Linked DNA regions of Homo sapiens: region 1 is linked to region 2. A link means that fine-mapping ties the variant in region 2 to the expression of a gene that starts in the linked region. Tissue or cell type: whole blood. Region 2 holds a variant in brackets; the other region holds the start of a gene. All regions are shown on one strand. Distances are between the middles of the regions.

Region 1 (8,103 bases), 340 kb before region 2:
CTCAGTTTTAGATGGATGAATGTCCATAATTTGGGGTTTTTGTTTTAAAGATCAAAGACTGAAAGGGAAAGAGTTGTTGGATCTGGTATGCTGCTTAATAAGGATTATTTATTGAAGAGTCACTTTTCAATAGATGTCTTGGTGAAACCCAGTAATTTTGGGCACTTAGGGCACTAGGAGATTTTTGTATTTTTTTTGTTGAGGGGAGTCTTATGGGTCCAACGTATGTCATGAACGATGAGCTTAAAGTTTCACAAAACCTAAGTCACTAAATTATCTTGTGGCTGGGAGAAAGAGTGTCTTATCTTTAAGACTTATCTCTGTCTTTATACAAAGTTTTTTTTACTGGCTTTGGTCATTTAAAATGGGACTTCAGATGTGCCAAATGAACTGAACTTAAGAGTTTAGCCAGTTTTTTTTTTTTTTAAACTTACAAGTTTTACTTAAGCCATGGAATTTTTTTTTAGAGAGAGAAACTGTTTTCTTTCCTGACCAAAATTGGAATGAAAGAAAAGGCCATGGCCATGCTCAGTGGCTCATGCCTGTAATCCCAGCACTTTGGGAGGCCAAGACAGGCGGATCACCTGAGGTCATGAGTTCGACACCAGCCTGGCCAACATGGTGAAGCCTCGTCTCTACAAAAATACAAAAAATTAGCCAGGCATGATGGTGGGTGCCTGTAATCCCAGCTACTCGGGGGGCAGAGGCGGGAGAATTGCTTCAACCCAGGAGGCAGAGGTAGCAGTGAACTGAGATCGCGCCACTGCACTCCAGCCTGGGTGACAGAGCAAGACTCCATCTCAAAAAAAAAAAAAAAAAAAAGGCGTATAAATTCTAGTAAGTCATTTAATAAATGACACGCTTAACCTCGGAGAAAAGTGAAAATCATAAATCTGTGAACAGCAAAATTTTCTGAGAACAAAAACAAAACTACCTTAAAGCAGAATTTTAATTTTAGCTCTGTTGAGCATGGAATTGGTTTGCTTAAATAAAGTTGAATCTCAGTTAGAAGCAGGGCAATGTGGGCTGGGTACGGTGGCTCAGGTCTGTAATCCCAGCACTTTGGGAGTCCGAGACGCATGGATCACCAGAGGTCAGGAGTTTGAGACCAGCCTTGCCAACATGGTGAAACCCATCTCTACTAAAAATACAAAAAGTAGCTGGGAGTGGCTGGGCGCAGTGGCTCACGCCTGTAATCCCAGCACTTCGGGAGGCCGAGGCAGGCGGATCACGAGGTTAAGAGATCAAGATCAGCCTGACCAACATGGTGAAACCACGTCTCTACTAAAAATACAAAAATTAGCCGGGCGTGGTGGCGCACGCCTGCAATCCCAGCTACTCGGGAGGCTGAGGCAGGAGAATCACTTGAACTCAGGAGGCGGAGGCTGCAGTGAGCCGATATTGTGCCACTGCACTCCAGCCTGGGCGACAAGAGCAAAACTCCATCTCTCACAGGCTCCAAATTTACTAATATAGAATTGAGCAAAATATTATTTCATATATACTTTAATTTGGTCTTTATGGCCATTTCAATTTTTTAAATTGCCAATTGTGAGTGTGTTTCCTGTTTCTCCCCATTTTTATTTTAAAAAACTAATATGCTTTTACAGTTTTTCTTTTTCTTTTTTTTTTTTTTTAGACAGAATCTCACTCTGTCTCCCAGGGTGGAGTGCAGTGGTGAGATCTCAGCTCACTGCAACCTCTGCCTCCTGGGTTCAAGCAATTCTCATGCCTCCACCTCCTGAGTAGGTGGGATTACAGGTATGAGCCATTACAGGCATGAGCCACCACACCTGGCTAATTTTTATATTTTTAGTACAGATGGGGTTTCACCATGTTGGTCAGGCTGGTCTCGAACTCCTGACCTCAGGTGATCCGCCCGCCTTAGCCTCCCAAAGTGCTGGGATTACAGGTGTGAGCCACCGCGCCTGGCCTGGCCAAAAAATATTTTTAAGAGAAGGTGTCTCCCTCTGTGGCCCAGGCTGGAGTGCAGTGTTGCCATCATAGCTCACTGCAGCCTCAACCTCCCAGGCTCAGGCAATCCTCCTGCCTCAGCCTCCAGTAGTTGGGACTACAGGGACAAGCCACTGCTTTATATATCCATAAATATATTTTATTTCCCTGTAATGTCCTCATCTCATTTATTTTTCCTTTTTTTTTTCTTGAGATGAGGTCTCACTCTGTTGCCAGGCTAGAGTGCAGCGGCATGATGGCTCACCGCAACCCCCGCCTCCCGAGTTCAAGTGATTCTCCTGCCTCAGCCTCCCGAGTAGATGGGATTACAGGCGCCCACCACCACGCCCAGCTAATGTTCTGTATTTTTAGTAGAGACGGGGTTTCACCGTGTTGGCCAGGATGGTCTCAATCTCCTGACCTGGTGATCCGCCCACCTCAGCCTCCCAAAGTGCTGGGATTACAGCCGTGAGCCACCGCGCCCAACCCTATCATCTATTTTCATTCCTTTTGTCAATACTGCTGGATTGGATGTACTAAATGTAAGGTCCTCTGAGCTGGCCGCACCATGGTCAAGCCATCGTGACATTCCCCCACCCTTGTGATAATGTACTTTGTAATATTCCCGGTCCTTGTGAATGTACTTTGTAACATTCCTCTCCGCCCTTGTGACAATACACCCTCCCCGCCCTTGTGAATGTACTTTGTAACATCCTCCCCTGCCCGCAAAAAATTGCTGCTGAGGCCGGGCGCGGTGGCTCACGCCCGTAATCCCAGCACTTTGGGAGGCCGAGGAGGGCGGATCACGAGGTCAGGAGATCAAGACCATCCTGGCTAACACAGTGAAACCCCGTCTCTACTAAAAATACAAAAAAATTAGCCGGGCGTGGTGGCGGGTGCCTGTAGTCCCAGCTACTCAGGAGGATGAGGCAGGAGAATGGCGTGAACCCGGGAGGCGGAGCTTGCAGTGAGCCGAGATCGCGCCACTGCACTCCAGCCTCGGCGACAGAGTGAGACTCTGTCTCAAAAAAAAAAAAAAAAAAAAAAATTGCTGCTGACTCCACCGCCTATCCTATCCCAAAGCTATAAGAACCAATGACAAGCCCACCACCCTCCGCTGACTCCTTTCTCAGACTCAGCCCACTTGCACCCAAGTGAATAAACAGGCGTGTTGCTCACACTTAGCCTGCTCAGGTGGTCTCCTATACGGACGCACGTAACACTAACATTTACCGATATTACTTACAGCTACGATGAAAAATGGAAAAGCAGCCGGACGCAGTGACTCATGCCTGTAATTCCAGCATTTTGGGAGGCTGGGGCAGGAGGATCATTTGAACCCAGGAGTCGGAGACCAGCCTGAGGCTGCAATGAGCGTTCATGGCACCACTGCACTCCCCACTGGGTGACAGAGCGAGACCCTGCCTCCAAAAAAAAAAAAAAAAAAAACAAGGAAAAGATGCAGACGCTTCCTCCTGGAGGCGCCTTTAGGTTCTCTCACAGACATGTTGGGCCAGCAGTGCTGGCTCCATCCTAGATTTCTTCCAGTCCTCCCCAGTTAGCCGCCAAGGGGCTTTTCCAACCGGAAACCTCCAATCCGCGACCCCGGCGGGTGCACCGCCGAGCCCCCCGGGAAGTGTAGTTCCAGCGCGAGCGGGACGCTGGGAAATGTAGTTCTGCGCGTTCACGTCCCCGATCGGGCCGTGTCCGCCGCGGCCCTGCGAGGTCCGAGGGGTAAGGGAGCGTGCAGCGGGGGCGGGACCACGAGGCGGCGGGGCTGGGGGCGGCCTCTGTGTCTGCGCCGGGGATCGCGGTGACCCCGCTGCGGACCGGCTCGCGGTGACCCCAGCGCGAACGAGCTGGCTGCCGGCTGGGGCGAGAAAGGCCTGCGGACCGGCCTGGGCGCATGCGCGGAAGGCGGGCCTCAGGCGGGGGCTCTGGGGGCGCGCGGGGGTGGGAGGCAGAGGGTGGGGTGGGGGCTGTAGGGCGGGCGGCGGCGGGGCGCTGAATGTGGGTGTCGGGGGAGATTTGGGGTCAGCTGGGCGATTCACTGGGGGCCTATGGAGGTCGCTGTAGACTTGGGGTGCAGCACGGGCGGGGCAAGGGGACGCGAGGTTGCCCTTGGCCCCAGGGGAGAGGGGCCCCTGGGAGGCCGTGTGGAGGATTTGTCTGCAGCGATTAGGACTCTGCTGATGAATGATTTGGATGCCTTTGGGTGAGCATTGGAGGCCAGCGGGGTGAATGATGAGGCTTCTGCGGGGGCCTGCGTTGGAGGGCTTAGGGGCTTGCTTGTGTGGGTTCCATTCACTGGAAAGCCTGCCGGCTGTGACAGTGTTGGATTTCACCAGAGCCCTGTGCTCCTGGAAAACAGCGAAGGTTGAGGAATTTCCCACCCTTTTGGGTTCCAGCAAATGGCTCACTGCAAAGATCTCCCGTTCCCTATATGACTTTGGTCAGCCTCCAGGATGCCCCTTGTTCACACAGACCTGCCACGTTGCCGTCGCTTGCCTCATCGGTGACTGGCTGAACTCCACCGAGCGGTCGGAGCAAAATGCTCCTTAAGCAAACTTTAGCTAAGCTTCTTTCCTTTCCCCATTTTCTTGAGCTTTGGCCCATCCCCAGCCTGAGCCAACACGCAGCCTCGCCTGAGAACAGGCTGGCTCAGGGTCAAGCTTTCCCCGCTCTGCTGTCTGGTCGCCCGCACTTCCACCTCGCTTGGCCAGGCCTGGTCTTTGCTAACCTTGTTCACACCTCTCTGTGAAAGAAAAACCCTTTTTGCCTTGCAGAGATGCACGTGAGTCTCGTGGCTTCACGGTTCTTCCCAGAAGCCCGTTCTCCTTCCCCTTCCCAACCCTCTTCCGCGTCTTTTTTTCCCCACTTCCAATAACCCTTTGGAACCGTCTTTCTTTGCTCTGTCCAGTTGTATGTTTTATTTGACAGCTGAATAACAGTGGTTGCTCTTTCAACCCCTGTCTCCAATAGCGGAGGCGAGTATGGGGTGGCCTATGCTGGCGAGTGGCTGGGGTTTGTTTCTGTGCTTGTGTTTGGGGATCTTATGATGGAAGCATTAGGAATGGCGCTGTGTATTTGTGACAAGGGAGTCTGGATGTAAGTTAATGGTGGACCTGTTGCAAGTTGTGAGTGCGTGGACAACGGGGGTCATACTTGGCGTCATTGGAGGGGCCTGCGGGATCGGCATTTGTGCAGAGCCCCACAATCCCTTTCCAGGTGGTGTTTGGGAGGGCCTGTGGGAATGTCAGTGAATGCTCCAGCATGGAGTGGATTAGAGAATGGGGTGTCATGGGGGCGAATGCTTGGGGGCCCCGGGGATAAGGGATTAGGGATCCCTGGGCATTGAGTGACTGGGGTCTAATTTAGGGGGTCTGTGGCGCAAGCCTCAGAATGTCAGTTACAGGGGAGGGGCTCTGTGAGCGCCTGACTTGGGCACCTGATGAAGTGAGTGAATGGAGACCAGTGTGTTCGTCCCAGGACAGAAGCCCCTTCTCCTCCCCTCCCCACCCTTCTCCTCCCCTCCCTACCCTTCTCCTCCCCCATCCTTCTCATCCCCTCCCCACCTCACCTGCAGGAGTGACTGAAGCCCCTTCTCCCCCGCTCCCCACCCTTCTCCTCCCCTCCCCAGCTCATCTGCAGGAGTATCTGAGTTCTGTGGGGATCCTTTGGGACTCAGAGTTTGGGGTTTCAGTCTGTGGTGATTCTTAAGTGGGGCTTTGGGGGTGCTGGTGATTATGGTGTCTGGCATCTGTATTTAAAAGCCCTGTGGGAGTCACTGAGGTCCAGTCATCAGTTGGGCCTGTAGGGATAACTCTGCCTGGCCTGTGAGGTCTATGGTGTGACGTAGGAATGGTAAGTGTCTGGGGGCCTGTGGAGGATTAGGAATAAAGGGTCCAGTGTACATCGTTGAATGGGGGACAGTTTTATTGGCTCGTGCCCTGGCATTGGCTTTGTTATTTGAGGGTGTTGGAACCAGGTGAGAAGGAGCTTGTTTGTATTAGTGACCGGGTACCAGAGATGACTGAATGACTGATGGGGTGGGCAGTGAGGTCTGTGAGGAGGAATGATCGGAGGGCTTGGGATCAATGCCAAGTATGCGTGCAAGTGTCTGTGATGGGTGTGCGGGTGGGTGAGGGTGAGAAATTGGGGACCCTGTGGGTGTCAGTGAGAGGGAAGCCTGGGGAGCCTAAGAGTTTGTTTGCCATTTGCGGTGAATGTGGAGTTAGAAGTTAGTGGCCTTAGCTGGGCACCGTGGCTCACACCTGTAATCCCAGCACTTTGGGAGGCTGAGGCAGGCAGATCAGGAGGTCAAGAGATCCACACCATCCTGGCCAACATGGTGAAACCCCGTCTCTACTAAAAATACAAAAATTAGCTGGGCATGGTGGTGGGCGCCTGTAATCCCACCTACTCAGGAGGCTGAGGCAGGAGAATTGCTTGAACCCAGGAGGCAGAGGTTGCAGTGAACCGAGATTTTGCCACTGCACTCCAGCCTGATGACAGAGTGAGACTCCATCTTAAAAAAGATAATAATAAGTTAGTGGCCTTTGGGTATCTGTGATTAGTGGTCTATACTGTGCCAGTCTGTGGAGTCTGTGGTCAGGTGTTTCTGGAGGCTGTTGTGGGGCCACTAGAGTTACCGCCTGGGGTCTTTGTTGGATGGTCACTGGGGAACCCATAGTGTGTGTCTCTGAAGGCCCTGGAGGGGCGGCCTCTTGGGGAGAGAGACTGGGTGGCCTGTGAAGTCAGCCATTGTGGTCCTGTGGGAGTGATGGGGGCACATGGGGTGAGTGAGAGTGGGGTTGATGGGGTTCGGTGGTTGTGTGGTCTGGAGGTCTGTGAAGCAGGCCTATTGGATTCAGTGATCTGGGGATGTCTTGGGATGTGGACCTGGAGAATTCTCAGGTGGTCACTGTGAGTGACTGGGGGACTTGGGATGCTGGAGGTTGGCAGGGGCTTGGAGCTGCGGAGTTCAGTGGTTTGTGTCTGGGGTGTGTGTGTGATGGAGGCCCTCTCTGGGACTTGGTAATCCGGGGAACTTGGCAGGGCCGTGTTGGTGGGTCTGGAAGCAGATCCGAATGTGAATGGGTCGTGGGTTGGCTCAGGCAAGCCTCTCGTGAGTGACAGGTCTTTTTGCCCTTTGGCCCTCTCCTTGTAGCTTGTGACCGCTGATCAGTGATCACTCTTTTTACGTGATTATTTCCTTTTTTAAAAGTTCTCAGTGACCCCGTTGGCCTTAAGGTCTTCTCCTTGTAGAATTTCCCCCTTGCTGTTTGTACCTCCTAGGCCTCTTCCATCCCTCCTGATGACCTCCGGCTCCCCCACCCAAGACCTTTGCATCTGAGGTGCCTGGAGTGGTGTGGTCGGCCCAGCCTTCCGTGGCGGACTGCTCCTGCTTCAGGCTCAGCTAAAAGCCACCTCCTCCCACAAGCCTCTACGACGTCTGGGAGGAATATCTTCTGCCCATTCATCCCTTGGTCACAGTTAAAATTTCCTTTTTTTTTTTTTTTTTTTGAGACAGAGTCGCCCATGCTTGAGTGCAGTGGCGTGATCTCAGCTCACTGCAACCTCCATCTCCTGGGTTCCAGTGATTCTTCCGCCTCAACGCCCCCAGTAGCTGGGATTACAGGTGCCCGCCACCATGCCCGGCTAATTTTTTGTATTTTTAGTAAAGATGGGGTTTCACCATGTTGGCCAGGCTGGTCTCGAACTCCTGACCTCAAGTGATCTGCCTACCGCCTCAGCCTCCCAAAGTGCTGGGATTACAGGCGTGAGCCACCGCGCCTGGCCCACAGTTAAAATTTCTTCTGAGCGCTCACAGTCAGAAATCATTTATTTACTTGGCTGTTTCCCTAGAGGGCAGAGACACCGTACATCTTGTTGAGTGGTCTTTCCCGTGTGCTCAGAACAGTGCCTGGTGTGTAATAGGAATTCAGCAAATGCTGCTTTCGTAGCGAGTAAATGAGACTGTGTGTGTGTGATGTGTGTGAACGTGTGTGTATGTGATGTATGTACGTGTGTGGGAATGTGTATTGTGTGATGTACGTATGTGTTTGAATGTGTGTGATGTGTGTATGAGTGTGTATGTGTGTATGAGTGTGAGTATAGTGTGTGATGTATGCGTGTATGTGTATGTGT
Region 2 (8,103 bases):
GGGCAGAGATGGGGCAAGGCCGCAGGGGCGGGAAGGCTGGGCCACACTCTGCCCCTTGTTGGCCCTCCTGGCCTGATGGAGGGCTGGGGTGCTGGTCCTCGGAGCGGTGGCCGGGTTCGGGAGGGGCCTGGCCCAATACACGGGCAAGGGTCACAGGCCAGCTACCTGAGGGGTGGCTCGGCGTACACACCTTGTCAAATTTCTTATGGCTGTAGACCTTGTTTTTGTTCATGAATGTTAGCAAGATCCAGTCGCACAGGAAGGAGCCCTGGGGCCAGCAGAGACCGGTGTGTAAGGGCCTGGTGGACCCCCCGCACCCGCTGGGACCCCAGAGAGGGTTCCTTACCACCCCGACGGAAGTCAGAGCTGTGGCCAGATTAATAATGGTGGGAATCAGGCTGAACTTCCCGGCCTGGGGAGAATGGGGGTCGTGGTCAGAATGTCTGACGGCGTCTGATGGGGCTTAAGGGAGGGGTGGGGCGTGAGGAGCTCAGACCCAGGCTAGCAGGGCTGGCCACCCACCCCCAGCAGGTGCAGGCACCTGTCCATGCACAATGACGTCAATGCGGATCCCGTAGGCCTTGATGAGCGTGCGGGTGGTGGTGCCATTGATCTTGTAGTATTTGGCAAACCTGCAATGGGAACGCCAGTGCCCACTCGTCCTCTGCACTCCAGGGCTGCCCCACAGGCATTGGGCCTCTCGGGACCCCACCACAGCTATGCCAGTGTGGACAGCGGTGTCCCAAGTACAGCACCTGAAGTTGTAGCCTGACGAGGCAGGCACGTGCTTGGGGTCAAGCCTCCGGAAGGAGTACTTGGGGTTGCACTCCGATGCAGGCAGGTCCAGGTCACAGTCCCAGTTGATAATGACCCCGATGACACCACCCTGCCAAGAAGGAGCCAGAGAAGGGGGTCAGGAGGGCACACGAGAGGCCCCTCGAGAGCCCGGGTCAGTCCCAGGCCAGGGAAGGGGGTCACAAGGGCACACGAGAGGCCCCTCGAGAGCCCGGGTCAGTCCCAGGCTGCATGTGAGGTGTGCACTGAGGGGCCCATGGGGCAGCTCAGGGGTACTGGTGGGCGTCCAGTGTCTGAGGCACAAGGGGTGCCAGCAGCCAGCCCCATGGCCAGTGTCAATAATTCAGCAAGCGCCACACCGGATGGGTTGCGCTGATCGCATTTCTTTTCCTCTGCCTGAGCGGGGCCAGCTGGTCAGGAGGGAGGAGGGACTGGTCCCCTGTACCCCAGGCCCTCTCTGTGCAGGTGGGAGCCCACCCTGGCCCCACCCTGCCTGCGCTTGCCCTGCCTTGTGTGCGAGCTCTGTGAAGCTCTCCCCAGCCTTCTCCACGATAAAGCCCAGCTTGAAGATGGGGCAGTAGAGGTCGGAGGCCTCGTGGAACGTGCAGCGCTTCAGGTACCCGTCTGTGCGGTCGGCGATGTTGCCCCTGAGGAGGCGGCAGGAGGCGAGACCTGCACCCCAAATACCCCATTCCCAGAAGGCAGCCCTCAGGCTGGGCCGTCACCACACCCCGCGGCTCTTACTTGGAGAAGTGGAATTTGGGGTAGTGGATGCTGTTCTTGATGAGGATGGTGAAATTTGGGGCCATCGTACCCAGAAATTGGCTGAGGAGGCACAGAAGGGTTGTTTAGTCCCCTCTTCCCGCAAAGCCCCCGCCTGGCATTGGCCCCCACCCCTCCCCAGATCTTGTCACTCCTGCCCCGCCCGTTTGGCCTCTGGTCAGGGGAAAAGGATCAGAGGGGAGGCTGGGCCCCAGGCCGGGGCGCAGGTGCACCTGACAGAGGCCCCATCTTCCACCGGGCACCAGCCGAACACCTCGCAGGTCTTGGAGGGCCCCTGGTAATAGGGCACACAGCGCCCAGTCCTCAGGCCTGGGAGGCAGAGGTCACTGAGGCATTAGCGGGGACGCAGCCCTGCCCCACCCGCCCAGCCCCAGCTGGCGCACACCGACCGTTTCCCAGCATGTCCAGCTCCCCAGCCACGCAGTCGGCGTCGGAGAGGCAGGTGGCGTTGTGGACCCTTATGCTCTAGGGTGGAGGCGGCCCAGTCAGGGACCCCGCAAGGGACAGCTGGCCCGCCTAGCTGAGGCGGGGTCCCCCAGCGCCGCGGGATCCCCTCACCTCGGGGCAGGTTCCCTGGGTCTGGGAGTGGGTGGCCTCGACCCTGGTGATGATGCTGAACACGCTGCCCCCCTGGGCTCAGAAAGAGGGGGCGGTCGGCCAGGCGGCAGCCGCTGCCCCCTCCGCCCACTAGGGTAGGGTGCACGGCGGGGCGGGGGGCAGGGGGCGGCCCGCACCTCGGGGGGCTTCACGTACTCCTCCACGTCCCACACTTTGTGCTCGGACGTGGTGATCCCCTTGACCTTGGTGATGATGGAGCTCTCGGGGCCCGTCTCGCTCTCCTGGTAGCTTTTCTGCACGATGAATACGTACCTGCGGGCAGGGGCGGCGCCGGCTCCGGAGGCGACCCTGGGAAGGCTGAGTCCCGCCCGCAGGCACGGCAGGGGCCCTCCCGCGACCCGGGTCCGCTCTGCGGGGCTCTTGGGGCCTGCCCCGCGCCCTCGGTCCCAGCCCCAGCCCCTGCCCCGCGCCCCCGGTCCCAGCCCCAGCCCCTGCCCCGCGCCCCTGGTCCCAGCCCCAGCCCCGCGCCTCCAGCCCAGCACCCCGAGTCCCAGCCCCTGCCCCACGCCCCCAGTCCCAGCCCCTGCCCCGCGCCCCCAATCCCAGCCCCTGCCCCGCGCCCCCGGTCCCAGCCCCAGCCCCTGCCCCGCGCCCCCGGTCCCAGCCCCAGCCCCAGCCCCGCGCCTCCAGCCCAGCGCCCCCAATCCCAGCCCCTCCCCTGCGCCCCGCACCCCGCGCCCCGCACCCCGCGCCCCGCGCACCACACGAAGTAGAGCAGGATGAGCAGCTGCACGGCGCGGTACAGGACCCCCAGGCGCCGGTTCCTCACCACGATCACCTTGGGCGTCTCGTAGTCCCAGAGGGCGGACCAGCAGCCCCGGGCCAGGCGCCGGGCGGTCGCCCCGGCGGGGTACTTGGGCTGGGCGGCGGCCATGGCGCGGGCGGCCCCCACCTCCAGGAAGGCGCTGCAGGGCTGAGGGTCGGCCCCGCTGCGCACCGAGAGCGGGGGGCGCGCGGCGGGCGGGTAGCTCGCGGCTCCGCCTCCGGGGTGCGGCCTCGAGCCCGCCCCGCCTCGCCCCGGCCCCGCCCCGCCCCGCAGGTGTCCCGGGAGTCCCGGGTGTCCCAGGTGGGGCTGGGAGCGGGGCCTCGCGGGGACAGAGCCGGGGGCGCGGCAGCCCAGCCCCAGCTCTTGGTCCAGGTGGGGGCCGAGCGCGGAACCGGCGGTCTCGAAGTTGGAGGGTCGGGATTCCCCGGGTGGGAACTTTTTCCGAGCTCGAGGAGAAAGACATGGGAAGTCCCGCCGGCCTCCGCGGCGCCCCCCACCCCGTCCAGGCCGGTTCCTGCCGCGGCTGCCGGGGCTTCGAGCGCAACCTGCACTCCCGCCTTTGCCAGCAGACGCCTCGCTTCCAGCTCCTGCCTCCGCCGCAGCTCCAGCCCTCGAGCTGGAGAGGGATCCACGGCCGATCCGTTTTCTTCTTTGCAAGCCAGAGTTTTCTTTCTTTCTTTCTTTCTTTTTTTTTTTTTTTGGTAACTTTTCGAACCTCCACCCCACCCACATTATTTTGAAGCAAATCCCAAGCATCACAGTTTTTCACAAAATAATTTTAAAATAGTTTATTATGATAAAATCAGCATAGCATGTAATTAACTATTTTAAAGTAAACAATTCAGTGACATTCACAACATTGTGCAACCACCACCGCCTCTGTTTCGTCCCCAAACACTTTCCCCACCCCAAAATAAAACTCCCATCCATTAAGCAGTCACGACCCGTTCCACACTCCTCCCATGCCCTGGCAACCACTGGTCGCTTTTCTGTCTCAGTGAATGGACTTGCCTGTTCTGGATATTTCATATCAAGGAAATGCAATATTTGTTTCTGGGTTAATGCCTTTTCTGTCTGGCTTCATTCACTGAGCATGTTTTCAAGGTTCATCCACATTGTAGCATGTGTCAGGGCATCACCCCTTCTTATGGCCAGGAGAAATGTCTAGGCTATCCAAAGAAGGAATTTAGATTGCTTTCAAACTAACTCTGTGAATAGTGCTGTTATAAACACTGGTGCATAAGTATTTGTTTGAACTGTTAAATTAACTCAATTAACAGGCTGCCTCTGTGCCTTGAGTTTCTAGGTAACAACAAACTGCAACCTAATGTACCACAGAAACAAGCTAAAAGCTTAACCTATGAGTATATTTTGGAACAAATAGCTGGGTCTCAGCCAGTCACAGGCTGCTAACTGATCTGATCATGCCATATAAGGCAAACATTTCAAGCAGTAACAAAATCAAGCTAATTGTGATTTTTTTTTTTTTGTATCTCACTTCTGTGTTCTATCTATAAAAACTTCCTGCCCACATTACAGAGTGGAGCTCTCGAACCTCCCCCATTGGTTCTGAGTGCTGCCCAATTCATGAGTTGTGTTTTGCTCAATTAAACTCTGTTGGCTGGGCACAGTGGCTCATACCTGTAATCCCAGCACTTTGGGAGGCCAACATGGGTGGATCACTTGAGATCAGGGGTTCGAGACCAGCCTGGCCAACATGGCGAAACCTCGTCTCCACTAAAAACACAAAAGTTAGCCAGGTGTTGTGGCATCTGTAATCTCAGCTACTCGGGAGGCTGAGGCAGGAGAATCACTGGAATCTGGGAGGTGGAGGTTGCAGTGAACTGAGATTGCACCACTGCACTCCAGCCTGCATGACAGAGGGAGACTCTGTCACACACACACACACACACACACACACACACACACA[CACACACAA/A]ACTCTTAAATTTAATTTGTCCAAAGTTTTTGTTTTAACAGTTTGGTGTCAGAAGTGGGATCTGAAGTAGACCTCCAGCCACCCCCTAGGAGCACTGAATGCTCAGTAGGGCCTGTGTGCCTGCTGATCTCTCAAAGCATCTAGAGTCATAGGTGAGTTCTCTCTGCTGGATTTGTGCTCTATGACCATGTGTTTTGAGCCCTCTACTTTGAGCAATTCTTTTTTTTTTTGAGATGGAGTCTCACTCTGTTGCCCAGGCTGGAGTGCGGTGGCGTGATCTCAGCTCACTGCAACCTCCGCCTCCCAGATTCAAGCAATTATCCTGTCTCAGCCTCCCAAGTAGCTGGGATTACAGGCACATGCCACCGCGCCCGGCTAATTTTTTTGTATTTTAGTGGAGACGGGGTTTCACTGTGTTGCCTGGGCTGGTCTCAAACTCCTGAGCTCAGGCAATCCACCTGCCTTGGCCTCCCAAAGTGCTGGGATTACAGGCATGAGCCACGGCGCCCGGCCTTGAGCAATTCTTAGACCGGAATGGGTCCAGGATTGAATTGGATCCAAAACTTAACTCTATTGTATCCAGTTAGAGGCCTTGAGTAGGTCCCTTTTGGCTTGGGTTTGTCTGAATCCAAGGAGTCTGCGTGCCGCCTTCTGGGACGTTTGCTAATTATGTGTGTAAGAACTATGGACCCAGAACTTGTGCACATTTTAGAAAAATCGGCTAACCCCAAACTCAAAAAGACCCCTCCAGATTCTTGGAACCGTACACCTTTCGGAGACCTTAAGGTGAAGCTAACCAGGGAAGTTTTCCCCAGAAGCAGACGGGATCCTAAATGTGGACAGCTTTTCCAAGATCATGGGTTGAGACTTCTCTGCCATCATGACAGCCTTAGCCTCCCCCTGGCCCCTTATTTCCTGCTGTCTGAATCTTTTCCTTTTCATTACAGGAAAATCCACAGCACCATAATGTGTGGATGGCGTCAGCTAAGGCTTACGCTCTAGGAAAAACCCAGAGTGGTAGTTGGGTTTGTGGGTTAATGTCAAAAGCCAGGAAACTACATCAATCCCTGTCATTTTTCACGATGACGGTCACTCTGGAACTCCCAGGGGAGAGTGGAGAGCGTCCCCATGTGTCCCAGGGGAGACTGGAGAGTGTCCCCATGTGTCCCAGGGAAGAGTGGAGAGAGTCCTCGTGTGTCCCAGGGAAGACTAGAGAGCGTCCCCGTGTGTCCCGGGGGAGAGTGGACAGCCCATATGTCCCAGGGGAGAGTATCCCCGTGTGTCCCAGGGAAGAGTGGAGAGCGTCCCCGTGTGTCCCGGGAGAGAATGGACAGTGTCCCCGTGTGTCCCAGGGGAGAGTGGACAGTGTCCCCCTGTGTCCCGGGGGAGAGTGGGGAGCGTCCCCATGTGTCCCAGGGAAGAGTGTTCCCGTCCCTGTGTCCCAGGGGAGAGTGGAGAGCATTCCCGTGTCCCAGGGGAGAGTGGGGAGTGTCCCCGTCCCTGTGTCCCTAGGAAGAGTGGACAAACACACTCTCCTTTATGTTCCAGACACCGCTGCTATCACTTTCATATACCCGCTGAAACGGTGTTCTGACCTTTCCAATTAATAATCCAAACACTGCTCATATGTAAAGCGTGCCTGAACGATGCCTTCAGAAGGTAGATGAGGCTCCAGGCATCACATACTCAAGACCTGGGAGTTCTCTCTGTGGGTGGGAGACACGGCATGTGTGATGTCACTGGATTGAGTCCAGTGAGGTCCCTTTCCATTAACTGTGGTTACACACCCTCACAGCACACTGTAAAGGGAAAAGCTTCATACCGGAGCTTTTCCGCTGGACCTGCTTCGGGAGCTGTACTGACATGTGGGTGAAAACGTGTCACTGACTTCTGCTCAGATGCCACCAGGTGGCGCCCTTTTCCAGCCCCCGAGAGCTTCTGCTGGGTCTGTGGAGAATCCGCTGTTGGGCCTCCTCACTGGTTTGAATCTTGCAATTTGGTCCGGCTCAGTCCTGCCTTCCAAGTAGCTTCCCCTGACAGTTCCCACCCAGGATACCTCCCATAATCGGAGGCCAAAGCAGTCAACAACCAAAATTAGCACCAGCCTTGAAATAAATGAAGTTAGTTTTCACTGAAGAAAGTTTCCATTAGAATTCTTGGTGGTGGTGAGGTGCTGGTTGTGTGGAATTCTAACCTAATTAGTAAATTGGGGAACATCTTGGGCTTTGTGGCCAACCCGACCTCCCAGGATTTTTTTTCCCCCCAGAACTCCATGAGTTCACTCCCAGGGATTTAGACGGGTGGAAGTCACGCTCTGAAAGGTGGATTACTAGAAATCACACAGCTTTAGGTCTGTTAAAGGATATCTGCAAAACAACAAACAAACAAACAAAAACCCAGTTAACAACTTTCTTCCTAAAAATTATTTTTTATTGTAATAAAACATTTAACATGAGACCCACCCTTTTAACAACATTTTAATTGAACAATACAGTATTGTTAACTACAGGTGTGATGTTGTATAGCAGACCTGGAACATACTCATTTTGCATAACTGAAACTGAAACTTTATCCCTGTTCAGGAGCAATTCCCTTTTACCCTCTCTGCAGCCTCTGGCAACCACCATTCTACTCTCCACTTCTATGAGTTTGACAACATAATTTTTTTTCATAATTTTTTTTGAGATAGGATCTCACTCTGTTGCCCAGGCTGGAGTGCAGTGGTGCAATCCTAGCTCACTGCAGCCTTGACCTCCGGGCTCAAGTGACCCTCCCACCTCAGCCTCCTGAGTAGTTGGGACCACAGGCACGTGCCACCACGCTAGGCTACTTTTTCCATTTTCTGTAGAGACAGGGTCTCACTGGGTTACCCATCAGCCTGGTCTCGAACTCCTGGGCTCAACTGATCTTGCCTTGGCCTCCAAAAGTTCTGGAATTATAGGCACGAGCCACTGTGCTCAAGTGACAACATAATTCTTTTTTTTTTTTTGAGATAGTATTTGACTCTGTCACCCAGGCTGGAGTGTGGTGGTACGATCTTGGCTCACTGCAACCTCCACCTCCTGGGTTCAAGCGATACTCTTGCCTCAGCCTCCTGAGTAGCTGAGACTCCAGGTGTAAGACACCATGCCTGGCTAATTTTTTATTTATTTTTTGGTAGAGATGGGGTCTCCCTATGTTACCCACGCTGGTCTCGAACTCCT

What was found. PIP is the estimated chance that this variant, and not a neighbour inherited with it, causes the effect.
Region 1: ZNF605 starts here. The variant in region 2 is fine-mapped to the expression of ZNF605 in whole blood (INTERVAL, PIP 0.94).

What each region holds. Positions count from the first base shown.
Region 1 is chr12:132,951,827-132,959,929 of GRCh38, reverse strand. ZNF605 (zinc finger protein 605) reads left to right here and starts at 3,624. Exons shown (of 5, transcript NM_183238.4): 1 at 3,624-3,687. It overlaps LOC124903064 (a long non-coding RNA gene), which reads right to left and starts at 3,381. Exons shown (of 2, transcript XR_007063552.1): 1 at 3,200-3,381. RefSeq lists enhancers at 3,414-3,493, 3,247-4,075, 4,353-4,647, 4,076-4,906 and a silencer at 3,654-3,993.
Region 2 is chr12:132,613,784-132,621,886 of GRCh38, reverse strand. P2RX2 (purinergic receptor P2X 2) reads right to left here and starts at 3,111. Exons shown (of 11, transcript NM_170682.4): 1 at 2,898-3,111; 2 at 2,313-2,448; 3 at 2,137-2,208; 4 at 1,968-2,043; 5 at 1,791-1,887; 6 at 1,540-1,620; 7 at 1,304-1,442; 8 at 756-886; 9 at 542-632; 10 at 347-412; 11 at 1-268. The coding sequence starts at 3,070. The variant CACACACAA/A (reference allele first, on the strand shown) is at 4,893.